3 linked regions of the Homo sapiens genome follow. The protein of the gene in region 3 purifies or fractionates together with the protein of the main gene of each other region. This does not show direct contact. Each region holds a gene or a part of one and is shown on either strand. Other genes may lie near its edges. The genes, in order: NTHL1, NSA2 and CAMKK1.

Region 1 (2,908 bases), on a different chromosome or scaffold from region 3:
GCCGCCACCCCGGTCCCTGTCACTGCACAAGCAGGTACGCAGGTACCAGGTGCTGCTGTCACTGATGCTCTCCAGCCAAACCAAAGACCAGGTGACGGCGGGCGCCATGCAGCGACTGCGGGCGCGGGGCCTGACGGTGGACAGCATCCTGCAGACAGATGATGCCACGCTGGGCAAGCTCATCTACCCCGTCGGTTTCTGGAGGGTGAGCCCTGCCTGTGGCAACGGGGGCCGGGTGGCAGTGGCCTGAGAGAGACCTCAGAAGGCTGAGGGGGGTGGCGACGGTGCAGGAAGTGAGGGTCAAGCATCTCAGGCTCGGGGGGTCCCCCTGAAGCCCCCCCCAGGCCGTGGGGCCCTGAGGCCTGACGCCCAGTCCCAGCAGCTCCTTGGCCTTCCTGTTCGCATCCTCCCTTCCTTCCTCTGCTTCCCCGCCTCGCCGCCTGCCCACCCTTCCTCACCGCCAAGGCTGCCTGCCCACCCGCCTTTCCCTTTGTTTACTGCTAGCCTCTCCCGGTGTGTCACCCCCTCCTGTCCAGAGCCCCTCACCCTCCAGGAGCCCTGGGGAGGCTGCTCCCCAACCCCGCCGAGCACTGGATGGTGGTGGGCGGATCTGTTGAAAGCAGCTTGGTGGGTGGGGCCGCTTCCCCTTGGCACCCGCGTGGGCCGCAGTTTCTCAGATGGGTTTTAAATAGCCCTCTCCACTCAGGCACAGGATGGGAACCACCCGGCAGGCCTGGCAGCTGGTGGGGAAGCCCCAGCTCCAGCCCTCCTTCCTGAAGGCGCAGGTGCAGCCAAGCCCCACTCCTGGGAGCGGCTGGCCTGCTTGGCCTGGCCTGGGTGCTGGCAGGGAATGACGGGCAGGGGAACCCCAGCCAGAGCCTACACGTGCATCATTGGCCCACACGGGTGGGAGGAGGGGGTCAGGCCTACCTTGGGCCTCCCTGCTGCCCTCCGCTTGTTCCCGCCTCCTGGGGGGCGGGGGCTGAGCTTGCACACGTCCTCAGCAGGTGCAGGTAGCTCTGGCCACCTGTGGGTCTCCTGGGGGCTGCATCCTCCCAGGTTGGGCTGTGCCCTTGCCTCCAAGGCTGAACCCACCCCTGTCTTTCAGAGCAAGGTGAAATACATCAAGCAGACCAGCGCCATCCTGCAGCAGCACTACGGTGGGGACATCCCAGCCTCTGTGGCCGAGCTGGTGGCGCTGCCGGGTGTTGGGCCCAAGATGGCACACCTGGCTATGGCTGTGGCCTGGGGCACTGTGTCAGGCATTGGTGAGTAGAGGAGGGCGGGGCTGGCTCCAGCCCACTGGCTGCTCTTGGGATTCCCCACATCCTTGTGACCTGTGACTCCACTTCCAGCATGCTGGTCCTCCACCCAGCCCATAGAGTCAGAAAGGTGCTCCCAGGGTGGAGCCAGGCCAGCCCCACTCAGAGACAGGTGCTGGGGCAGGAGGTCACATGGGCTGAGCACCTGCTCCGTGCAGGGCTCTGAGAGAGGCCCCGGAGCTGGACTCCATCTGCGTTGTATTCGGGAGAAATGTGGAGCGAGGAATTCCCCACTCGTGGAGTGGAAACCCTGATGGTTGTGCAGGGTGCTCTTGGGGCCTGGCTTGGGCCCAGGGCCTCTGGGAAGGCCCCCAAGGTCATCCTTCACCTGAGAGCTGCAGAGCAAGGTGGGGTGAGCCAGGCCAAGAGGAGGAAGTGTGTTCCCAGCAGAAGGAACAGCATCTGTAAAACCATGATGCGAGAGAGAGGGCCAGGAGCAGGAAGTTCTGGAATGAGATGAGGGCAGAGTGGGGAGGTAAGGACTGAGGAGGGAGGAGGAAGAGTATCCCCTCAGCAGGTGGGGTGGGGAGGGAGGTGCTGGGGGGAGAAAGGGGGAGGGTGGGGAGGGAGGCTCTGCGGGGACAGGAGGGGAATGGTAGGGAGGGAGGCGCTGGGGGAATGGGGGAGGAGGGTGGGGAGGGAGGCGCTGGGAGGATGGGGGGAGGGTGGAGAGGGAGGTGCTGCGGGGAGAAGAGGGGAGGGTTGAGAGGGAGAAGAGGGGAGGGTGGGGAGGGAGGCACTGGGGGGAGGGCCCTCCTTGAATCCTTTTCCCAGGTCCTGGTGTCTCTTCCTAGCACCGGAGGCTTCTTGGCAGTTGGGTGCAGACAGACCCCTGGGTTTGGGGTGGGGCTGCCTCCTCCTCGGCTTTGTCCAGAGGATTTGGGGCTCCTAAGGCCACACGCAGCCGGGCCCAGCCAGTCCAGAAACCAGGGCTTGGCCCTGCCCTCTGTGTGCCCCCATCCCAGGCCCCTTTGGGACTCCTGCAGGGGGCCTGTGCCGGAGGCGGGGGGCTTGCAGCACTTTCTGGTGGGCAAGAGGGCCACCAAGGGCCGGGGGCCTCTATTCTGAGCCGGGGCCACCTGGTGAGGCTGAACAGCCACAGCAGCCCCAAAGAGCCAGAGCCAGGCCAGGTGCGCCGGGGCAGGGCCTCCTCCCGACTGAGACTCCCAGCGTCACCACCTGCCAGCCTCTCAGTGGACACTTGAGCTTATCTGGGCGGCTGTCCTCAGCTGCCCGTGTCCCTGGGGTGCTGCATCGTGGTTGGGCAGGGCTGTGGGGGAAGGTCCCTGCCCGCAGCCAGGCAGGGAACGGGCTTTGGGAGCAGCGGGCACAAGAGACAGCCATGTGGAAATACCTCCCTCTCCAGGTGTCTGTGGGCCTGACCACCTGCAAGGAGACCCCAGGGCTGCCTCCTAGGGGTTCCCCGAAAGAGAAACGCTCTCAGTTAAAATGTCAGAGCTGGCTGGGTACAAGGGCTCAAGCCTGTAATCCCAGCACTTTGGAAGGCCGAGGTATGTGGATCACCTGAGGTCAGGAGTTCAAGATCAGCCTGGCCAACGTGGTGAAACCCGCTCTCTACTAAAAAT
Region 2 (3,651 bases), on a different chromosome or scaffold from region 3:
CATTTTCATGATTCAAGTAGAAAATAGTGCCAAGTAGGTATTATTATACATGGTAAATGAGATGAAAAAAATGTTTAGAATGTGAATTCACTAGACCTTTGCTGTACTGGATTTCACAGGTGAAAAGATTTCTCTAAGATTTCTGAACTTTTAGTGTCTTCTCACATACTTCTAGTGTAAACAAACACTATAAACTTAACATCTGTATTAATGCTACCTACCTTTTTTAGGATTAATGATTAACGAGATTTTGAAGATACTTCAGTTAAATTCTCAGACACATAATTGTGTATTAACCTTTTTGAAAGGCATTTTCAATGAACACTGGTGGTTTTTTCAGGAAATTGCTGAATACCCACTCACAAATGCAGATATTGATGAAGTAGGATATTTGTATATTTGCTTTTTTTCAATCATTCAGTTTTATGAACATGGGGTCAAAGCGTATTTCAAAATAAAGACCATTTATAAAACTGGACCACTTTAATGTTTACAATTTAATAAATCTCTTCATTGCAGACATGTATGGCTGTTTGGTAGTATTCAGAAACATCACAGTAATGGCAGTTTCTTCAATTGGTGTGTAGTCCTCAATAATTATATATGAAATTGCTGTCAAACCAGTAAGACTGCATTTATACATCCATCATTTTCAGGATTGTTGGTAACCTGGGCATATTTTCCTAAGGAAAACAAAACCAAAAAAGGGAAAAGGGAGGGTTGTTAGCTAATAAAAATTAATTTTAAAGAATATAACTTTTGCCTTTTTTTTCTTTTTGTCTTAATACAGGGTTTCACTCTTATTCCCCAGGCTGCAGTGTGGTGGCGTGATCTGGCTCACTGCAACCTCTGCCTCCTGGGCTCAAGCGATTCTCCTCACTCAGTCTTCCGGGTAGCTGGGACCACAGGCACACGCCACTGCCTGGCTAATTTTTTTGTTTTTGTATTTTGTAGAGATGTGGTTTTGCCATGTTGCCCAGGCTGGGCTCGAACTCCTGAGCTCAAATGATCCGCCTGCCTTGGCCTCCCAAAGTGCTGTGATTATAGGTGTGAGCCACTGCGCCCAGCCATGCCTAAAATATTTCTAATTACCACTTTCAATAAATAAGAAATGAACCATAAAGGATAAATGAGATTTTACAAAATTCAATCATTTAAGGACAAATTTGAGTTCTGAATACAATTTTCATACAAATAGTGTTTTTGCAAATAATGGCCAGCTCCATGTTATTAGTACATTGCATTAACAGGCTTTTGTGGATTGACCTGAGCATTGTCACTTTTTCACATAATTCTTCCTGGAAAATGTATCAAGTTTCAAATGAGTTTCAAGTCAAGGTAACAACATATTTTAAAACTGAGGTCAGCTGACATGAAGTATAAACCAATGACTGAAGAAGTTGTAGCGTGTATTCTTCCCTTTCAAAGAAATTGGATCTGGGTACTAAAGGTAGAAAACTAAGCAAATGAGGGCGTTTAAAATTACTGCATGACACATTTCTGTTTTAATTATTACTGATCTAGTGTGATTATATGTTGTATGCCTCCCTCGGCTCATGGTTAATTTATTCTATTTTTTTTTTACAATTTTTTTTAGTTATAACTTTGCATCTGCTTCCCTTGTAATAAAGAATTTTTATTAAAAAAGATCAAAATATTTTTATTTTACTTATTTTTGAGATGGAGGCTTGCTCTGTCTCCCAGGCCGGAGTGCAGTGGCATGATCTCAGCTCACTGCAAGCTCCAGGTTCATGTGATTCTCCTGCCTCAGCCTCCCGAGTAGCTGGAATTACAGGCACCCACAACCACACCTGGCTAATTGTTTTGTATTTTTAGTAGAGACGGCGTTTTGTCATGTTGGCCAGGCTGGTCTCCAACTCCAGTCTCAAGTGAACCGCCTGCCTCGGCCTCCCCAAGTGCTGGGATTATAGGTGTCAGCCACTGCGCCCAGATAGCGAGGGGGCTTTTTAAAGCCTGGAAGCTTCTACATGATTTCTGAGACCTGTTAATGGGAATTAACAGAACGAACTAAACTGTGTTAAATCACTTTCAATTATTATTATTACTTTTTGAGACAGAGTCTCGCTCTGTCATCCAGGCTGGAGTGCAATGGCACGATCTCAGCTCACTGCAAGCTCCACCTCCCAGGTTCAAGCGATTCTCCTGCCTCAGCCACCGGAGCAGCTGGGATTACAGGTGTGGGCCACAACACCTGGCTAATTTGTGTATTTTTAGTAGAGATGGGGTTTCACCATGTTGGCCAGGCTGGTCTTGAACTCCTGACTGCAGATGATCTGTCCGCCTCAGCCTCCCAAAGTGCTGGGATTACAGGCTGAGCCACCGCTCCTGGCAGTTTCAATGATCAGTTTACCTACGTGGGACAGATAGTTCTATTTCTTTAAATGTAATAGGTATTTTCTCTTAATGTTAGCATGTAAATATAAGAAGTATTTACATAATATAAAGTTGTGGCAAAAGAAATTTTTTCTTACGGAAGACATCTTTAGTCATTGGCTAATACTTCATGTAAGCTGACCTCACTTTTAAAATATGTTTGATATATGCCTCCCTTCCTCTGCTCATGGTTAATTTATTCTATTTTCTTATAATATTTCTTAGTTATAACTTTGCATCTGCTTCCCTTATAATAATTTTTATTAAAAAGGTTAAAAAAATTTTTTTTGAGATGGAGATTTGCTCTGTCTCCCAGTCTGGAGTGCAGTGGCACAATCTCAGCTCACTGCAAGCTCCGCCTCCTGAGTTCAAGTGATTCTCCTGCCTCAGCCTCCCAAGTGGCTGGGATTAGAGGTGCTCGCCACCACACCCGGCTGATTTTTTTGTATTTTTAGTAGAGGTGGGGTTTTGCCATGTTGGCCAGGCTGGTCTCAAACTCCTGACTTCAGGTGATCCACCCGCCTCAGCCTCCCAAAGTGCTGGGATTTACATGCGTGAGCTGCTGTGCCTGGCTAAAAAGGATAAAAATAAATCTAGCAGAATGTATTACACCTTATGTAACTAAAACCAGTAAGCTAAATTTTAAAACAATTGTATTTATAACAACTTTTTCTATAAAGTATTTTTTACTAAATATTTACATCTGATTTACAGTGTTTTAGCTCTACTGCATTAAAAAAATTTGCTGTATATTTTATTAATACATCAACTTGAATAGTATTTCTATTAGTACTGCAGAACACAGCAGCCCTGTATTCAAAAATTCACTTACCCCAAATAACTTTGCCTCCTTGTGTCACAAGGCCCAATTCGCTCACATTTACTTCAATGACAGTACCTTTGGTAATAACACCCAAAGTTGTATACAGTGGGGATGAGGGATTCTTCTTTACACCAAGTATTGGTAGGCAAAAGGTGGCTTTCAGTTCAGGATGTGTTACATGGGCTTTCTTGAAACGCAAGCCCTAGTAAGTCAAACACAACATAAGAATGTTTACGTCCAAAATGTTAACAGTGATGAGTAGTGGTCGTTTTCGCTTATCTTTTTCAACCATCTCCAAAAAACTATGGTTGAATAATGTCATCTTAAAGAAGCTAACAAAATATGTTTTACAGAGTAAAAAGCTGATGGTTACAGTATAAATATGTGGGGAAAACACCCACACAAATACTTAAGAATTTCTTTTTCTTTTGAGA
Region 3 (3,651 bases):
TCCATCTATTCAGGGGTCCCTCCCAGGGAACAGCACCGCCACCTTCATATCTGCAGGCTGGGGTGGGGTCCTCAGAGGGCAAAAGCTCTGCTAAAACTCAGACACCAGGAGCGGGTGGTAGCCCCCTTGTTCCCCTGGGTGGACAACTCACTCCTCAGGAAACACCACGGGCTCATTCTTGATCTTCCTGTGGAGGGCCAGGATGAAATCGTCGATGAATGGGCACTGTGGGGTGGAGAGGCAGACAAAGGATGTGGGTCCAGGGCCTCGACCTGTGCCAGGGGATCAACCCCCCTCCCTTGGTGGGGGCAGGGGTAGGGGGCAGGTCTGGGCTCCCATTACATGAGAAGGACCTCAACTCACACTGTAAATGTTCAACAAATGTTGACTGAATGAATGAGTTGCTGAGGGAACAATGAGGCTGGGTGCATCCACCGCCGTTACTGCCACCCGCGGCCAGGCCAGGCCAGGCTGGGTGCACCCACCACCATTACCGCCACCTGTGGCCAGGCCTCCACTCCCAGGGCCTGGGGCTTGGGAACATGTTCACTGAAATTCCCCCCTGCCCCTTAGTGTGGTCACCAGAGCAGGCACACCTGCGGGCAGGGATCACCGATACGTCAGCGTTGGGTGTCCCCAGGGTCCAGCCTCAGCCAGGGTAGGGGTGAAGGACAATTTGTCGAATAAATGAGCAAGGGAGTGAACACATGGCTCAATAAGTGAATGGCGTCAAGGGACAGAGGGACGGGGAGCACTCTGGCTGGGGCGGTGGCAACACCATCGTCGGCACCTCCCCTTAGGTGTCTGCTGTCCTGCGACTCCTTCGCGAGAATCGCTCCGCAGGGGACCAGAGAAAGATAGAAAAAGCCTCTTCTCTCTCAGCCTTCTCTGAGCCAGGTGGGCTCTTTCAAAAGCCACTTAAGGACAAAAAGGAAGAGCCTGCATCCGTCGCCCGTGCCCGCCTCACTGGACCCGCCCCAGCTCTGCTGGCATCCCTGGCACTCACCTTCCCATAGACAAAGCAGTACAACGTGACGCCAGTGGCCCATACATCCAAGGCCTGGAAAGAAACATGCTCACATCAGTCCCCAACAGGCACAGCCACCTCTGCCCACCCAGCTCCAGCGGGCTGCAGGAGAGGCCTGCAGGGAACCTCTTTCCTCTGTCATGCACTCACTCGACAAACACTCCGCGGTACTTGCCCGATGCTGGGCCCCGTGCTGAGTGCTGAGGACACAGGGGCGGCCAGAACAAGGCCTCCACCCTCCAGGGGTTCTGGATTTCCTTGGGAAAGACTCTAACCAGGTACGTTTCCAACTCAACAGGTACAAAACCTCCTTCATCCAGAGGGTCACACGGGCCGCTCCCGTGCCACAGACGCACCCCAGGAATGATGGTATATATGGAACTTCTGCTCACTAAACCAGCTCGGGCTTCAAGGAGTCATCCCTTCTCCTCATAATCCACCTTCTTCCTGATATTGCAAACAGCCCCTGCCCACACAGAGGCCCTGTCCTCTCACGCCCTCATCCACCGCCACTGCAACAACTCCTCTGGGCTCCCAAACACCCCTGGGCCTCCCCGCGCCCTGGACTCCAGCGTGTGCTCTCTCTACCTTCTGCTCCGGAACGCCACCTCTTCTGGTATCCACTTTCTCGCTTATATGAGTGATTCTCGATCTCTACCTACATATTCCTGCCCCAGATGCATCATCTGAATCCAACCAGGGAACACCAGACAAATGCAAACTGACAACATTCTACAAAATAACAGGCTGGTTGTCTTCCAAAATGTCAAGATCAGGAAAGACAACGGCAGGCCAAGGCCCTCTTCCAGATGAAAGGATACCACAGACAAGAAGGTGAATGCAGCAAGTGGTCCTCGATTGGATTCCGGGACCAGAAAAAGAAGAAGTTATGAAGTACAGTATCAGGACAACTGATAACATTTAAATAAGGTCTGTGGATTATGTATGTCTTTTTTTTTTCAGACAGAGTCTCACTCTGTCGCCCAGGCTAGAGTGCAATAGCACGATCTTAGCTCACTGCAACCTCTGCCTCCTGGGTTCGAACGATTCTTCTGCCTCAGCCTCCCAAGTAGCTGGAATTACAGGTGCCTGCCACCATGCCCGGCTAATTTTTGTATTTTTTAGTAGAGACGGGGTTTCACCACGTTGGCCAGGCTGGTCTCAAACTCCTGACCTCAGGTGATCCACCTGCCTCGGCCTCCCAAGTAGCTGGAATTACAGGTGCCCGCCACCATGCCCGGCTAATTTTTGTATTTTTTAGTAGAGACGGGGTTTCACCACGTTGGCCAGGCTGGTCTCAAACTCCTGACCTCAGGTGATCCACCTACCTTGGCCTCCCAAAGGGCTGGAATTACAGGCATGAGCCACCATGCCTGACCGATATATAAGTCTTATCAATGATTAATTTCTGGCTGGGCGTGGTGGCTCACACCTGTAATCCCAGCACTTTGGGAGGCCGAGGCGGGCGGATCACGAGGTCAGGAGATCCAGACCATCCTGGCTAACACGGTGAAACCCCGTCTCTACTAAAAAATACAAAAAATTAGCCGGGCGTGGTGGTGGGCGCCTGTAGTCCCAGCTACTCGGGAGGTTGAGGCAGGAGAATGGCGTGAACCCAGGAGGTGGAGCTTGCAGTGAGCTGAGATCGCGCCACTGCACTCCAGCCTGGGCGACAGAGCGAGACTCCGGCTCAAAAAAAAAGAAAGATGATGAAAAAGCCAGTGGGACAAAATGTCAATAATTGGTGAATCTGGGTAAAAAGATATAGGGGATTTCTTTGTACTATTCTTCCAACTTTTCTGTAAATTTAGAATTATATCAAAATAAAACATTTCAAAAAATCTTTATCAACATCCCCAACGTCTTTCTTTCTTTCTTCGAGACAAGGTGTCGCTCAGTCACTCAGGCTAGACACCATCACAGCTCACTACAGCCCCCAACTCCTGGACTCAAGCGATCCTCCCACCTCGGCCTCCCAAGTAGCTGGGACTACAGGTGTGCACTACCACACCTGTCTAATGTTTTTATTTTTTTTTTTGTAGAAATGGGGTCTTGCTATGTTGCCCAGGCTCATCTCAAATTCCTAGCCTTAAGAGATCCACCTTGGCCTCCCAAAGCACTGGGATTACAGGCATGAGCCACTGTGCCCGGCCTCCTGACCTCTTTCCTGGATACTCACACGTGTCCAAATGCCTCTCACCCACAGCCTCCCTGGCAGTGGGGTGGCTGGCACTCCATAGGTGAAACAGCCATGTGCCCAGGGAACTGCGCCAGACCGTGTAACCTCTTGTTCAGACAACTTTGCCTACGCTCCTGTCACTTAGGAGAAAGCCCAAACTTCCAGGCCCTTTATACCCTCTGCCCCCCACCCTGAGCCCTTCTGTTCTCTGGTTTATTCTCTAGGCTCCAGGTCCTGCTCAGATCCTCCCCATTCTTCAAGGGCCAGTTCAAATCCTGCCATGTCCCAAGATCTGCGGGGACCCCCAACTTCCCCCGAAACCATCCAGAGGGCAGGAAACAGGGTTCTCTTTGTTTCTGCCTCTTCCACAGTCCAGTCCAGAACCCAGCACAGAGCAACCAACAGTAAATATCTGCAAGGGAGATTTGGGACCACTTTGCTGGAA

What was found.
Region 1: the proteins of CAMKK1 (region 3) and NTHL1 purify together in Homo sapiens (affinity purification with mass spectrometry; one large-scale study listed by BioGRID and IntAct). This does not show direct contact.
Region 2: the proteins of CAMKK1 (region 3) and NSA2 purify together in Homo sapiens (affinity purification with mass spectrometry; one large-scale study listed by BioGRID and IntAct). This does not show direct contact.

Annotation. Positions count from the first base shown.
Region 1 is NC_000016.10:2,041,927-2,044,834, reverse strand, and holds part of NTHL1 (endonuclease III-like protein 1), read left to right. Parts: intron 1-34; coding exon 35-205; intron 206-1,108; coding exon 1,109-1,268; intron 1,269-2,908. UniProt on the Homo sapiens protein: Bifunctional DNA N-glycosylase with associated apurinic/apyrimidinic (AP) lyase function that catalyzes the first step in base excision repair (BER), the primary repair pathway for the repair of oxidative DNA damage.
Region 2 is NC_000005.10:74,773,636-74,777,286, reverse strand, and holds part of NSA2 (ribosome biogenesis protein NSA2 homolog), read right to left. Parts: intron 3,420-3,651; coding exon 3,227-3,419; intron 684-3,226; coding exon 616-683; 3' UTR 1-615. UniProt on the Homo sapiens protein: Involved in the biogenesis of the 60S ribosomal subunit. May play a part in the quality control of pre-60S particles.
Region 3 is NC_000017.11:3,872,403-3,876,053, forward strand, and holds part of CAMKK1 (calcium/calmodulin-dependent protein kinase kinase 1), read right to left. Parts: intron 1,061-3,651; coding exon 1,007-1,060; intron 226-1,006; coding exon 152-225; intron 1-151. UniProt on the Homo sapiens protein: Calcium/calmodulin-dependent protein kinase that belongs to a proposed calcium-triggered signaling cascade involved in a number of cellular processes. Phosphorylates CAMK1, CAMK1D, CAMK1G and CAMK4. Involved in regulating cell apoptosis.